Homo sapiens: one gene and its partner. The protein of the gene in region 2 purifies or fractionates together with the protein of the main gene of each other region. This does not show direct contact. Each region holds a gene or a part of one and is shown on either strand. Other genes may lie near its edges.

Region 1 (8,615 bases), about 120 Mb from region 2:
GCTTTGTGGCACTTAGTGAAGACAGGCATACTGGGATCCATTTTGCTTTCAACATCCAACCCCTTTCAGTTGCAATACAGTTGAGAAAGCTAAATGTAATGAGAGTAGAGTAGACTTCTGTGAATTGCTTTAAGTTGTCCTAGAGAATGATTTAGTGTCAATTGAGTTGAGAGAAAGCTGTCACAGAATTGCTCAGTTGCAGGGTAGACCATAAAAGAGGTGATTTGCAGTTGTGTGCTGGAGTTGATTTGTACCAGCAAGCCATTGCTAAATTTTCAGGAATTTTGCCAACGGTTGGCAGCTTGAAATTGGCCATGGTGGGAGTATTTACACCACGGAAATCATCAAATGCTATAAATAAGGTATAAATAAGGGATTTTTCTCTCCCCTCCCTGCTTCAGTTTGTTTGCCAGCTCCCCACTGGGTTTACATTAGACTGTGAATGTAGGTCTTTGCCTTGGAGATAGGAGAGTGGATTTCTCTATCTAATCTTTTTAAAAACTGGCAAGATATGTGCCTTTCTCTCTGCTGCCTTCTCTCCTTCCCAAACCTTTGCCACCTGATATCTTAAAAATCACAAAACTTTTCACTGCCACATCCCAATGGCCTTCTAGTTTTTTTCAGTACTTCTTCTTGGGTCCTTTTTGGTGTTTGTTACTGTAATGATAGCTACTACTTTTTGAAACTCTTATTAGACATTCTAGGTCTTAATGACATTTTGCCTTTTATCTTACCTTACCTGACCAACAATAACTTTTATTAGTTTCTCCTCTTTTTTTTTTTTTTGCATTCTCTAAATGTAGTCATTTTCCAAGATTCTGTCATCATCCTTGTTTTTATTTTTCATCTTGTTTACTCAAACGTGAACTGTCTTGTCTGTGGAGATGACTCAGATCTCATTTTCTTTCTGGAGCCCTCTTCTGTACTCTGGTAATGTTTCTAATTGTCAGATGTTTGTGCCTGATTCCTCAAATTTAACATGTCCAGACCATGATCTTATTTTTACCTTCCTGCTCCTAAACTAAACGATATAAAAAGCTTAGTTCTGGCCGGGCGCCGTGGTTCACGCCTGTAATCCTAGCACTTTGGGGTAACACCGTGAAACCCCGTCTGTATTAAAAATACAAAAAAATTAGCCGGGCAAGGTGGCGGCGCCTGTAGTCCCAGCTACTCGGGAGGCTGAGGCAGGAGAATGGCGTGAACCCAGGAGGCGGAGCTTGCAGTGAGCCGAGATCGTGCCACTGCACTCCAGCCTGGGCGACAGAGCAAGACTCCGTCTCAAAAAAAAAAAAAAAAAAAAAGCTCAGTTCTTCCTCTTGAAACATTATATTGGCTTAATCATTGCCTTGACTAATTGTTAGATTATTAGTTTAATCTCATGGTTCTGTAATTCCCACTCCTGATTGTGAGTTACTAAAAAAAATCATATGGAGAGGTGATTTTATTAAAACTGATTATTCAGTTGAGACCTAGGATTTTTAGTTTTATTCTCTTTATTATCTAGTGAATGAACTTATTTTAGAACTGATGCAAAGAAATGTCACTGACTTGTTAAGTAGAGTACACCTGTGGCTTCTTCAAGTGTGTTTGATAATGAGGTCATATAAGTGACTCTAAAATGGTTTGTTTACTGTGTGAAGGAAGGTAGGAAACAATGGGGAGATACGTGTTACCAGCACATGGCTTGTCTAAAACACTTATACTACCAATCTGAGTCTTTAAAAGTTACAGGTTGGGGGGGGAGGGGCAGTTAAAACAGTATTAATTAATGTGTTAACATATATTAGAGGGCCTGGATTGTCATTGATCTAATAGTGATAATTTGAATCACTTAAGTATCATTTATCCAAAATAAAATGGCATGTTAGTCACTTAAATTGTAGCTGTATGAGACCATATTCTTTTTTTTTTGTTTGTTTTCCAGAGACAGGTTCTTGCTCTGTCACCCAGGCTGGAGTGCAGTGGCACAATCATGGCTCACTGCAGCCTCAACCTCCTGGGCTCAAGCAATCCTGCCACCTCAGCAACTTGCCCCCCAGCCCCTGTATTCCACCCCCCCAAGGTTGCTGGGACTATAGGCATGTGCCAGGCGGCTGGGACTACAGGCATGTGCCAGGCAGCTGGTCTTGACCTCCTGACTGAGCTCAAGCAATCCTCCCACCTCAGCCTCCCAAAGTACGCTTTTTTCTTTTCTTTTTCTCTTTCCCAAGAATAGGATTTAAAAAGTCAATTCCCAAGAAAGGTCTTTATTTACCCAAGTGTTATAATTTCCAATTTGGATGTTTTTAGTCATTGGTTGAGGAAGTATCTCAGATAAATATAAATGTAAATATAAATAAATGTATATATTCATACCTGTAATTCATTTGGATATTTATAATAAAAATCAAAGCCTCATGGTTTCTTTAAATGAGATAGAGAGCTGTGCTTAGGTTTATCAAGAGCAATAAGTTTATGTGATTTTTCTCTCTCAACTACTAGAATAGGAATGGAGGCCATTTTAAACAAAATTTTAATATAATGAAATCCTCTTTACTTATAACCTAATTAGAAATATTAAGTGGCCAAGAGTGTATGGAAACTGGCCAGATTTCTGCATATTTTCTTCAGAATACTTCGAAACCTCTTTCACTGTTTCATAATGTTTATAGATTGTGCAATTCAGGTTTAGTAATACTGTAGATAGACAGATGTGTTAAAGAACAAAACAGAGATTACCAGGAAACTTAAGTGTTGATAGTATGGAGTATAAGTATGACATAATATTTTTTTAGAAGGATTACGTAAAAAGTTAATGGAAAAAGTGGTGTCTATCTCTCACTCAGGATACTTAAAGTCAGATTCTTAGGTAAAATATACTCTATTAATATGTTAAGCACATCTTACTTGGCTTTCCTTAGAATTGTCACCTCTGATGTGATCTTTTATAACTTTTCTTACTCAAAAGTCTGCTCACTAAAAAGATTCTTAGTTTGCACTACAATGGTTGTAAAACAAGAATCCTTTCTTTTTTTGTTTTTGTTTCTGTGATTAGATGCTTTAGGGCTTATATCCTTTGCCTTGCTAATAAGGTAAGTGCCCAACTGATGGGGCTGTGTAGAAAACTTTTTGGCTTGCATTGGTAAGCTTTCCCCATGTCATAGATGCTTACTATTAGAAAGCTATAGTTCCTGTGGTGAATGACTTCTCTTTGTATTACAGTTGACACTTTGGTCACTGTTGAATTTAGGCCTCAGTGATGGATGATAGTGTTTATTGCTTGTCTCCTTAAATAAAATAGAGAAGTTAGGTTTTGCTTTTCTATTTATTTTCCAAAGCTATGAGGAAGAGGCATTGAATCTAGTTTACTGTTTTATAGGTGGGCTGTGTGAATTTAATTTTTGCCTTGAATTTTGTGACCTCAGAAGAATGGCAGAATATCTGACAAGCTTCAGTCCTGTGTCCTTAGTTCCAGTCTTCTATATACTAAACCTAGGAATGCTGAGCAACACTGAATGGCATAGGATACCACTGGGGAGGGGGCAAAGGGTCTCTTTGAAGGTGAGATTAATTTATCCCGAAGACAGGAGGTAGAGTTGGATGGGTAAGTTTTAAAGGGTTGAAGCAATAGAGGTTGCAAGGTAAGGTATGAGACCTTTGAACAAACAGGAATCAACTAAAGGGTGGAAAAGATAAGGCCCTTGCTTTTTACTCATTGGAAATGTTCCTTGAAGCCTATTATGTATATAACACTTAATCCTGTAGAGTGTCTCAAAGAAGCAGAGGATAGTTTCTGTAAAACATTTAATCATCTGGTTAAAGTGAAACTGGACAGAAGCATTATCAGGGCTTAGGGGAAGAGTGCTATCTTTACAATTCCATTAAGAGTAAAAATATCTTGCTATGTTTTGTTAAATATATATTTTTCTGTTAGAAAAAAACCCACTTTAAAAAATCACCTGTTTTGATGAAAATGCTTCTGTGAAAACCTGAAGAGAGTTGGTGCCTCTTCTTATGGTTGAAGATCCCTACTTTTTAATGTAAGCTTACAAACATGAAAACATGTTTTGCCCCTTCTCTGAGTTGAGCTGGTCACTAGAAGGCAAATCCATGGACAGACAGTCCCATTGTTTGAAAGCTGGTTTTGTGGTAAGTGGTAAGTTGGTGGAGGTAGGCATGATTCTTCCATTACAGGCTGGTATGTAACTTTTTAAACACTGGTGCTTTGTACATAGTAGGTATTCAGTGTCTGAATTATTTTTTGAGTGTCGTTTTTTAAAAAAGTATCCTTTTTTAATGCAAAGAATGCATTTGTGTTTTCTTTGCCCCAGTTTGTCTGTGATATCAACTGGAGCAATAGTAGCTTATACTTCATTTCACTGTAATTTTTTTTAATTGACCTCTGATTCTCTCTGGCAAATAATTGTGATATGGTTCGAGGGATGTTTGTTTAAGACAATGGATGAGATTGAGTTGTAAGTAATTTCTTGTTGGTACTAGTTCATATTTTTATGGTTAAATATAGACCTAATGGCTGGTCAAGGACAAAAGAGCTTCACCTTTAACCTCTAAAAATCATGAGTTCTTTTATTTTAATGGCCTGTGTATTAGTCCATTCTCATGCTGCTATAAAGAACTACCTGAGACTGGGTAATTTATAAGAGCTGTGCAAAGCCATAGAGACATGTAATCATATGAAATTTTGAGAGATATGAAGTACTGGAAAAAGTACAATATATGAAAAGAAAAGATGGGATGGAGGTAGGCTGTGGATGGATTGCAAAGTACCTTCTGTGCAGGTCCAGGAAAATATAGACTTATCCTGTAGGTAATGGGCAACCCTTCAGACATTTTAAGGAAGGTAGTCATTTGAGAAAAAAGCACTTTGGAGTGGCTCAGAATCAAACTTACTTACTTACTAGCTGTATACCCTTGGACTTGGTGCTTAACATTTCTGAACTTCAGTTTTTACATCTATGAAATGGGGATAATTTGGACTGAGAATCCCCTGGATTGTGAGTGACTTAATCACTCAGCAAACATTATTGATTGAGTACCTGTTATACGTAATATCCAGATAAATTCTACAGGGAAGGGAAATATAGTAGGATGAACCTACAAAGGTAAGAAAAGCTAGATGTTGGTACACAACCCTTCCAAAACTTAGCACATTTTCCTCTCACACCTATTCTTACTCTTGTGTTGTCTGTCATTATAGTGGTAACCTAAGAGAGACGCCTGGGAATCCTTATTATAACTTCTTTATCTCCAACCAGTTATCAAATCCAACCTGTTTTCCTTTTAAATATTCTTTGACTACATCTTCTTGTCTCTATCCCTGTTGCCAAAGCCTTGGATTGGGCCCTTACCTCTCATCTGGACTCTGCAGTAGTTCACTTTTCCTCTTCTAATTCATTTCTTTTTCATCAGAAAGTTCTCATTTTAAATAATACCAGCCATGCACCGAGCCCTTGCTAACTGTCAAATGACTACTGAAGCTCTGCATTATGTCAGGTTATTACAGTAAGCTTTTGGTTTGTGACTGCCAGGCCAGGAGTTGAGGCTTACCCTCTCTTTTGTTGGCTACAAGCAAAGTATGTCAACTGCAGCCTCCCCATGCCTTTCCTCACTAGCTGCCTCAGATCTGCTTCCTTGTTCTTTGTTGTGCTGTCTTCTGATGGATGCTTTGGTCGTTCTGTTCATCTACTGTTTGCTGAAACCCAAAGCTTTTTTGTACTTCTATTAACAGTTAACCAGTTCACCCTAAGGAGATTGTACGCAGACCAGCCTCCCACATTTGTGTTAGGGGTATGTTACTACTCATATGAGATTTGAAGCCTTCTTTTTCCCCAAAAAATGGTCGATCTCAGATTTTAATAAGGTGCCCCTTTTCTCAACCCCCATAGAGGTACCTTTTATATTCACTGTGAAACTGTCATTCAAATGAATCTACTCCTGGTCTTTAACTTTTTTTGCACTTCTACCCCAATAAGAGGCTGTCTTGCAGTGGGGAGGAATGCATTTTTTGTGTTTTCTTGTTCTTCCCATTTTATCCTCTTTTTGCTTATTTGGAATCTGACTATCCATGAATAAGATGGACTTTGAGATCTACTTGTAAGTACACAGGCTGAAGTTGAATATCTGTATCCCAGTACTTACCACCATGCTTTGTGCATGTTAGGTCACTTTTGTCACACATAGCTTTACCATCACACAGGTAGTAAATTTCCTGTGCTGCCTTTCTTCTGTGCATGTGACAATTGGTAGTTGAGAAGAGCATGAACTCACCTATTTGTTATTTTGTTTTTGGTGCTCTAGGTCAGGATGGCTAACTGGTTGGCTCCCCACATGGTGCCCTACGTCTATATCACACCTTAAAGAAGCTGAAGAGAAGATGTTAAAATGTAAGGCTTTCTTCTTGTAAGTTAAATGAGCTGTGTACTAAGATAGGTCCAATATATCTCATTGCCCTGAAACTGGAGGTAAGATTCTGTGGTGTGTTCATTGTTGGCAAAATAACTTTTTTCCTTTTCCTTGTCATTAGAAAGTACAGAAATGAATGTCGGGGGCTGGCAGGTAGGAGTTCTAAAACTTTTTGGTCTTGGGCCCCTGTTATACTCTTAAATTAGTAAGGACCCCAAGGAGATTTGTTTATGGGCTTATTATCAATATTTATCATTTCTAATACAATTAGAAATTAAAATTGAATAATCAAAAATGTTAATTTATTAATTTCTTTAAAAATAATAGTAAACCCATTACAGATTAAAATAAATAAAATTTGTACCAAAAAAAGAAAAAAAATACTTTCCAAACATTGTTTACATGTTTACAAATGTCTTTAATGTCTAGCTTGACATAAGGTTGCTGCTTCTGCTTTCAGTCTGATGGGTAATCACATATGTGACTTCTGGAAGACTACTTTATACCTATTAGAGAATGAGAGTGAAAAATAGAAAGTCTTAGTATTATGATGAAAATAGTTTTGACTTCCTGGATCTCCTCGAAGAGTCTCAGGGACACCCCCCCTGACTCTGCTTGAGACTATGCTTTGAGAACAGATTCTAGGTGTTTCAGAGCAAGCAGCCTTGTATAGTGGAAGTACTAGACTGGACCCAGGTAACTTGGTCTAGGCCCAGATCTGCCACTAGGTGGTTACAAGATCTTGGACAAGTCACTTTGCTCAGCTTCTCATTTCTTATAAAATGAAGGGGTAGGATTCTTATAAAATGAATGGGTCCATAGAATTCCTTCTAGTTCTAGCATTCTAGGATTCTATATTTATAGTGGTGTGGAAGCCCCTTTTTTTTCCTTCTTATGAGCACTAAAATTTACCCAAACTTGTACCATCAGGGCATTCCAAGGTATCTGTGGGTGTAGTTCTAAGTAGTGGTACTTATTGTGCAATTTTGTTCTGCTGATTCTACTTAAAGGAGTGGATTAGGTAGTACCATTCATATTCATGTGTTATTTTTGTATGTAGGTGCAGATGTTTGTACATGCCTGTTTTTCATTCTCTTTACCACTAATGAATTTGTTTGTGCATTTGAATGATTCAGGAGTAAGTGACCATAACTGGATATATCCTTAGGAAGGGATAATTAGCCATCTTTCATGAATTTTTTTTTTTTTTTGAGATGGAGCCTTGCTCTGTTACCCAAGCTGGAGTGCAGTGGCACAATCTCAGCTCACTGCAACCTCTGCCTCCTGGGTTCAAGCAATTCTCCTGCCTCAGCCTCCCAAGTAGCTGGGATTACAGGCACCTGCCACCATACCCAGCTAATTTTTGTATTTTTAGTAGAGATGGGGTTTCGCCATGTTGACCAGGCTAGTCTTGAACTCCTGACCTCAGGTGATCCACCTGCCTCGGCCTCCCAAAGTGCTGGGATTACAGGCATGAGCTACCACGCCCAGTTATTACATGGATTTTTAACATGATAATGAACTTCTATTCCATATACTTGGGTAAACTTGCTCTCTACAAAACTAAGAAAGATGTCATTGTGATTTACCAAAATAAAAAAATTCTTATCAGGAGGTAAAAAAGGGGTGCTAGATTCTCAATTCATGCATTTAACAGACATAATGATTCCCTTCCTTTTGGTTCTAGGGATGCAAATAGGAATGTGAATTGGTCTCTGCTTTAGTGTCAGACATGAAAGTAAGCTACGGTGGAGTGAGTTCTCTAATAGTTATACAGATGGTTTTTATGGGAATACACAGACGTATGTGTTCAAAATGCTGAAGTGGTTTGGCTTGGCACTTAAGCCAAAGCAGCCCCTTTTCTAAACTAGTGGTATTTCCCCCAACTTGAGGGCTTGTGCTCCATTAATATTCTGAATGAATGTTAGGTTTCTTCTTTGCTGCCACTATGTGGATACAAAACATGATATTATTTCTTTGGTTAAAAGGCAGAAACTCCTGTTTCTTCAGTGTCTTGTTTACTGTATATGAATATGCATAAATAATTAAGGGGTATATCAAAAATGCAGCTGTTCAGTTGATAGTTAAATATAAATGATTTCAAATTTAATTTCATTTTTAGGCAATTTTTGGGAGTGTTTAAAGTATTTAGTTCCACAACATTAAAGGTAAAAAAGAGTTTTGGTCTATAAAATTGTGACTATTTGCTTTTT
Region 2 (4,784 bases):
AGACTGGGTAATTTATAAGGAAAAAGAGGTTTAATGGACTCACAGTTCCACATGGCTGGGGAGACCTCACAATCATGGCAGAAGGTGAAAGGCACGTCTCACATGGCGGCAGACAAGAAAAGAGAATGAGTGAAGCAAAAGGGGTTTCCTCTTACAAAACCATCAGATCTCGTGATACTACAAGAACAGTATGGGGGAACTGCCCCCATGACTAAAGTTATCTACCGCTGAGTCCCTCCCACAACATGTGGGAATTATGGGAGCTACAATTCAAGATGAGATTTGGGTGGAGACACAGCCAAACCATATCACATAGCAACAAATTTAAATAACTTAAATTTGAAGCATTTTACTACAAATTAATGATAATTGCTTTGTTTGGGATGATTTTGGTCCCTAAGGAATAAACTCTTAATTGTGATCAGTTATTCACTATATATACTAGGAAATGAATTACTCAGAAAACTTCATTTTAAAAATACCTTGTTCTCTTTTAAATGACAAGCAGTATGGTAACAATTTGGAGGTTAATGCCTAGAATGTTAAATAATATGTACAGGTGTCTCTATGTAAACTTAAAATACATTTTTCTCTTGACAGGAAATGCACAATTTTGAGGAAGAGTTAACTTGTCCCATATGTTATAGTATTTTTGAAGATCCTCGTGTACTGCCATGCTCTCATACATTTTGTAGAAATTGTTTGGAAAACATTCTTCAGGCATCTGGTAACTTTTATATATGGAGACCTTTACGAATTCCACTCAAGTGCCCTAATTGCAGAAGTATTACTGAAATTGCTCCAACTGGCATTGAATCTTTACCTGTTAATTTTGCACTAAGGGCTATTATTGAAAAGTACCAGCAAGAAGACCATCCAGATATTGTCACCTGCCCTGAACATTACAGGCAACCATTAAATGTTTACTGTCTATTAGATAAAAAATTAGTTTGTGGTCATTGCCTTACCATAGGTCAACATCATGGTCATCCTATAGATGACCTTCAAAGTGCCTATTTGAAAGAAAAGGACACTCCTCAAAAACTGCTTGAACAGTTGACTGACACACACTGGACAGATCTTACCCATCTTATTGAAAAGCTGAAAGAACAAAAATCTCATTCTGAGAAAATGATCCAAGGCGATAAGGAAGCTGTTCTCCAGTATTTTAAGGAGCTTAATGATACATTAGAACAGAAAAAAAAAAGTTTCCTAACGGCTCTCTGTGATGTTGGCAATCTAATTAATCAAGAATATACTCCACAAATTGAAAGAATGAAGGAAATACGAGAGCAGCAGCTTGAATTAATGGCACTGACAATATCTTTACAAGAAGAGTCTCCACTTAAATTTCTTGAAAAAGTTGATGATGTACGCCAGCATGTACAGATCTTGAAACAAAGACCACTTCCTGAGGTTCAACCCGTTGAAATTTATCCTCGAGTAAGCAAAATATTGAAAGAAGAATGGAGCAGAACAGAAATTGGACAAATTAAGAACGTTCTCATTCCCAAAATGAAAATTTCTCCAAAAAGGATGTCATGTTCCTGGCCTGGTAAGGATGAAAAGGAAGTTGAATTTTTAAAAATTTTAAACATTGTTGTAGTTACATTAATTTCAGTAATACTGATGTCGATACTCTTTTTCAACCAACACATCATAACCTTTTTAAGTGAAATCACTTTAATATGGTTTTCTGAAGCCTCTCTATCTGTTTACCAAAGTTTATCTAACAGTCTGCATAAGGTAAAGAATATACTGTGTCACATTTTCTATTTGTTGAAGGAATTTGTGTGGAAAATAGTTTCCCATTGAAAATGTCAACCTGAATTGTTTAAATGGGCTTATTCTGTACATTGCTAAACAAAAAATGGGGTAGCATGGATAAAGAGCAAACTAAGCTTTATTAGTGCTGCAACTAATATAAACAAATGTTTATATTTGTTGCTTCTTTTGGTTAGCAATGATATGTCAAAGTTATATCTGAAATAGTCAAATCTTTGGGAAACAGAATCTAGTAACAATTTGAAAAGTAATACACTATCCCATTTTTATTGGCTTTATGATGGTTGACATAATGTTGCTGTGACATTTAAACATTCTTGTACCAATATTGTCTTTTACCATTATTATATACTGCAGTTAATTGGCTTTACAGTTCTTTATATATATAGCAAAATCCTGAAAGAACATATACCTTTATTTTGATGTGGCTTGAAGCTTTTGAATGGGTGAATAAGGATGATAGAAAGGTTTCAAAATCAAGCAACAAAGTCTTAAAGTGATAAGGCATGGCTTAAAGATCTTTTGATCAAACATACCTGTGTTTGAGATAGATTTAAGAGCCCTAAATGCTTATCACCATTCACTCCAAATAAAACTATTGCTTTTGGATAACTGTTAGAGTAAAGTGGCTTTTTAAAAGAAATTTTTGAGACTGGGTCTCACCTTGTTGCCCAGGCTGGAGTGTAGTTGTCTGGTCATGACTCACTGCAGTTTCGACCACCCAGGCTCAATCGATCCTCCCGCCTCTGCCTCTGGAGCAGCTGGGACAAGGCACACACCCCCATGCCTGGCTAATTAAAAAAATTGTTTTTTGTAGAAACGAGGTTTTGCCATATTGCCCAGGTTGGTCTCAAACTTCTGGGCTCAAGAGATCTGCCCACCTTGGCCTCCCAAAGTGCTGGGATTACAGACGTTAGCCACACTGTGCCTGGGGGCCAGCATTTTCTAATACTTGTCATATTCTATAGTTTGTGCAAATTTAAGATTGTTTTTTTTTCTGCTCGTCAGTCAAATCAGTTCTTGGATTAAAAACTCATTCTTATTAGAACAGAATCATGTTGGTAACTTGGTCTGCAACAGGTTTTGATGGCATCATGTGGACTTTATTCATCTTAACTCATTTAAATTTTCTACCACATTCCCTTAAGCTAATGCAAAAGTACCAACAACTTAATCTTTTTTTTTTTTTTTTTTTTTTTTTTTTGAGACGGAGTCTTGCTCTGTCGCCCAGGCTGGAGTGCAGTGGCGTGATCTCGGCTCATTGCAAGCCCCGCCTCCCGGGTTCACACCATTCTCCTGCCTCAGCCTCCCGAGTAGCTGGGACTACAGGCATCTGCTACCACGCCCAGCTAATTTTCTGTATTTTTAGTAGAGATGGGGTTTCACTGTGTTAGCCAGGATGGTCTCTATCTCCTGACCTCATGATCCACTCGCCTCAGCCTCCCAAAATGCTGGGATTATAGGCGTGAGCCGCCACGCCCGGCCCAACAACTTAATCTTTTATTAGCTTTGCTTAAGAGGGCCAATTAAATCAAAGCCCTTTAGTTCCCTTTAACAGGGACTGGAGTTATGATGCATGTGTTACGACTTTTGGCCCACTGTCCATGCAACTCTAAGTGCAGGTTGATTTGCTTTCCAGAAATCCCAAAGGGGCTGCTCTTGGATCACCGAAGAGCCTTACCTATATCAAATCAAAAAGACATTCTGGGTCAGATTAGACTATGCTCCTGGCCCTACAGATTGCACATAAACTATCATAAATACAGCTTTTTCAGGGAACTAGTTCTAAAACTCTTACCTGCTGAGAATAAGTCTTAACACTAAGATGACTGTATTATATCAATTTATTATTAGAATCAGACTTATACCTAGCACAATTAACTATTGTGTGGGCAAAGAACATTTAAAGGGCATAGTAGAGGTAAGGAGAGACACATACTCAGCTAGAGATAAAAATACTAAGTTGCACTGATTACTTAAAATACTAGTCACACCATAAAAGTGCCCTGTAGTTTCAAAAACACGTAAGCAATGAAATGTTAGCCATTATGTGTTAAACTACTTAATCTCATTTCTGTGATGTGAATATTTTTAACCCCCTTTTTGTAGATGAGGGAACTGACAAGTGACTTGTCCAAGGCCATATAGCTGTGAGAAAACCCATGCATTCTCTTTTCAGAGTTCATGCTATCACTCAACTTTAAAGTAGGCCAAGATTAATGTTGGTAAGGGTTTGTAATCTGTAAGAATGCTAAAAACGTAAGTATATATATCATTTTAGATTTGACATTTTGTATCTTGCCAGTTTTTAGGAGAACTTTTCATTTTGTTAAGTATGCATGAATATAGTTGAGTATATGAGTAACTGGTTCTTATGCTGCTGTTTTGTATTTTTACCAGCAGGAAGATTGCAAAAGTTGATGTATGTAAATCTTGAAATATTTCTAAGTTTTATGTATAACAAAATATGTATTTTAATAAACTTCTTTTGATATTTTATTTGCACTGTCTTAATGAGACTTCCATACTCAGGAGTGGTAGCTATGGGATTTTCACATGGGTTCTGGGTACTTCTAATTCTTTGAAACTTAGTACTGCAGGCTGGGTGCAGTGGCTCATGCCTATAGTCCAGCACTTTGGGAGGCTGAGGCAGGCAGATCACTTGAGGCCAGGAGTTTGAGACCAGCTTGGCCAACATGGCAAAACCCTGTCTACCAAAAACACAAAAATTAGCTGGGCACTGTGGTGTGCACCTGTAGTCCCAGCTACTCATGTGGCTGAGGCACTTGAATCGCTTGAACCCGTGAGGCAGGGTTGCAGTGAGCCAAGATCTTGCCACAGCACTCCACCCTGGGTGATGCAGTGAGACTTTCAAAAAAAAAAAAAAAATCTGAGCTCTACTGCATTGGTTATTAAAATATAATAAAAGTATTAAATTCTATTTTCGCACCAAATGAAAACACTTGATTATCATTATAGCACTTTAAACTTACTTTTCC

What was found. Proteins that work in one complex are often made in the same cells at the same time.
Region 1: the proteins of TRIM59 (region 2) and ABHD5 purify together in Homo sapiens (affinity purification with mass spectrometry; 3 studies listed by BioGRID and IntAct, with this or other methods). This does not show direct contact.

What each region holds. Positions count from the first base shown.
Region 1 is NC_000003.12:43,692,979-43,701,593, forward strand, and holds part of ABHD5 (1-acylglycerol-3-phosphate O-acyltransferase ABHD5), read left to right. Parts: intron 1-6,297; coding exon 6,298-6,383; intron 6,384-8,615. UniProt on the Homo sapiens protein: Coenzyme A-dependent lysophosphatidic acid acyltransferase that catalyzes the transfer of an acyl group on a lysophosphatidic acid.
Region 2 is NC_000003.12:160,435,003-160,439,786, reverse strand, and holds the end of TRIM59 (tripartite motif-containing protein 59), read left to right. Parts: intron 1-600; 5' UTR 601-603; coding exon 604-1,815; 3' UTR 1,816-4,284; downstream 4,285-4,784. UniProt on the Homo sapiens protein: E3 ubiquitin ligase involved in different processes such as development and immune response. Serves as a negative regulator for innate immune signaling pathways by suppressing RLR-induced activation of IRF3/7 and NF-kappa-B via interaction with adapter ECSIT.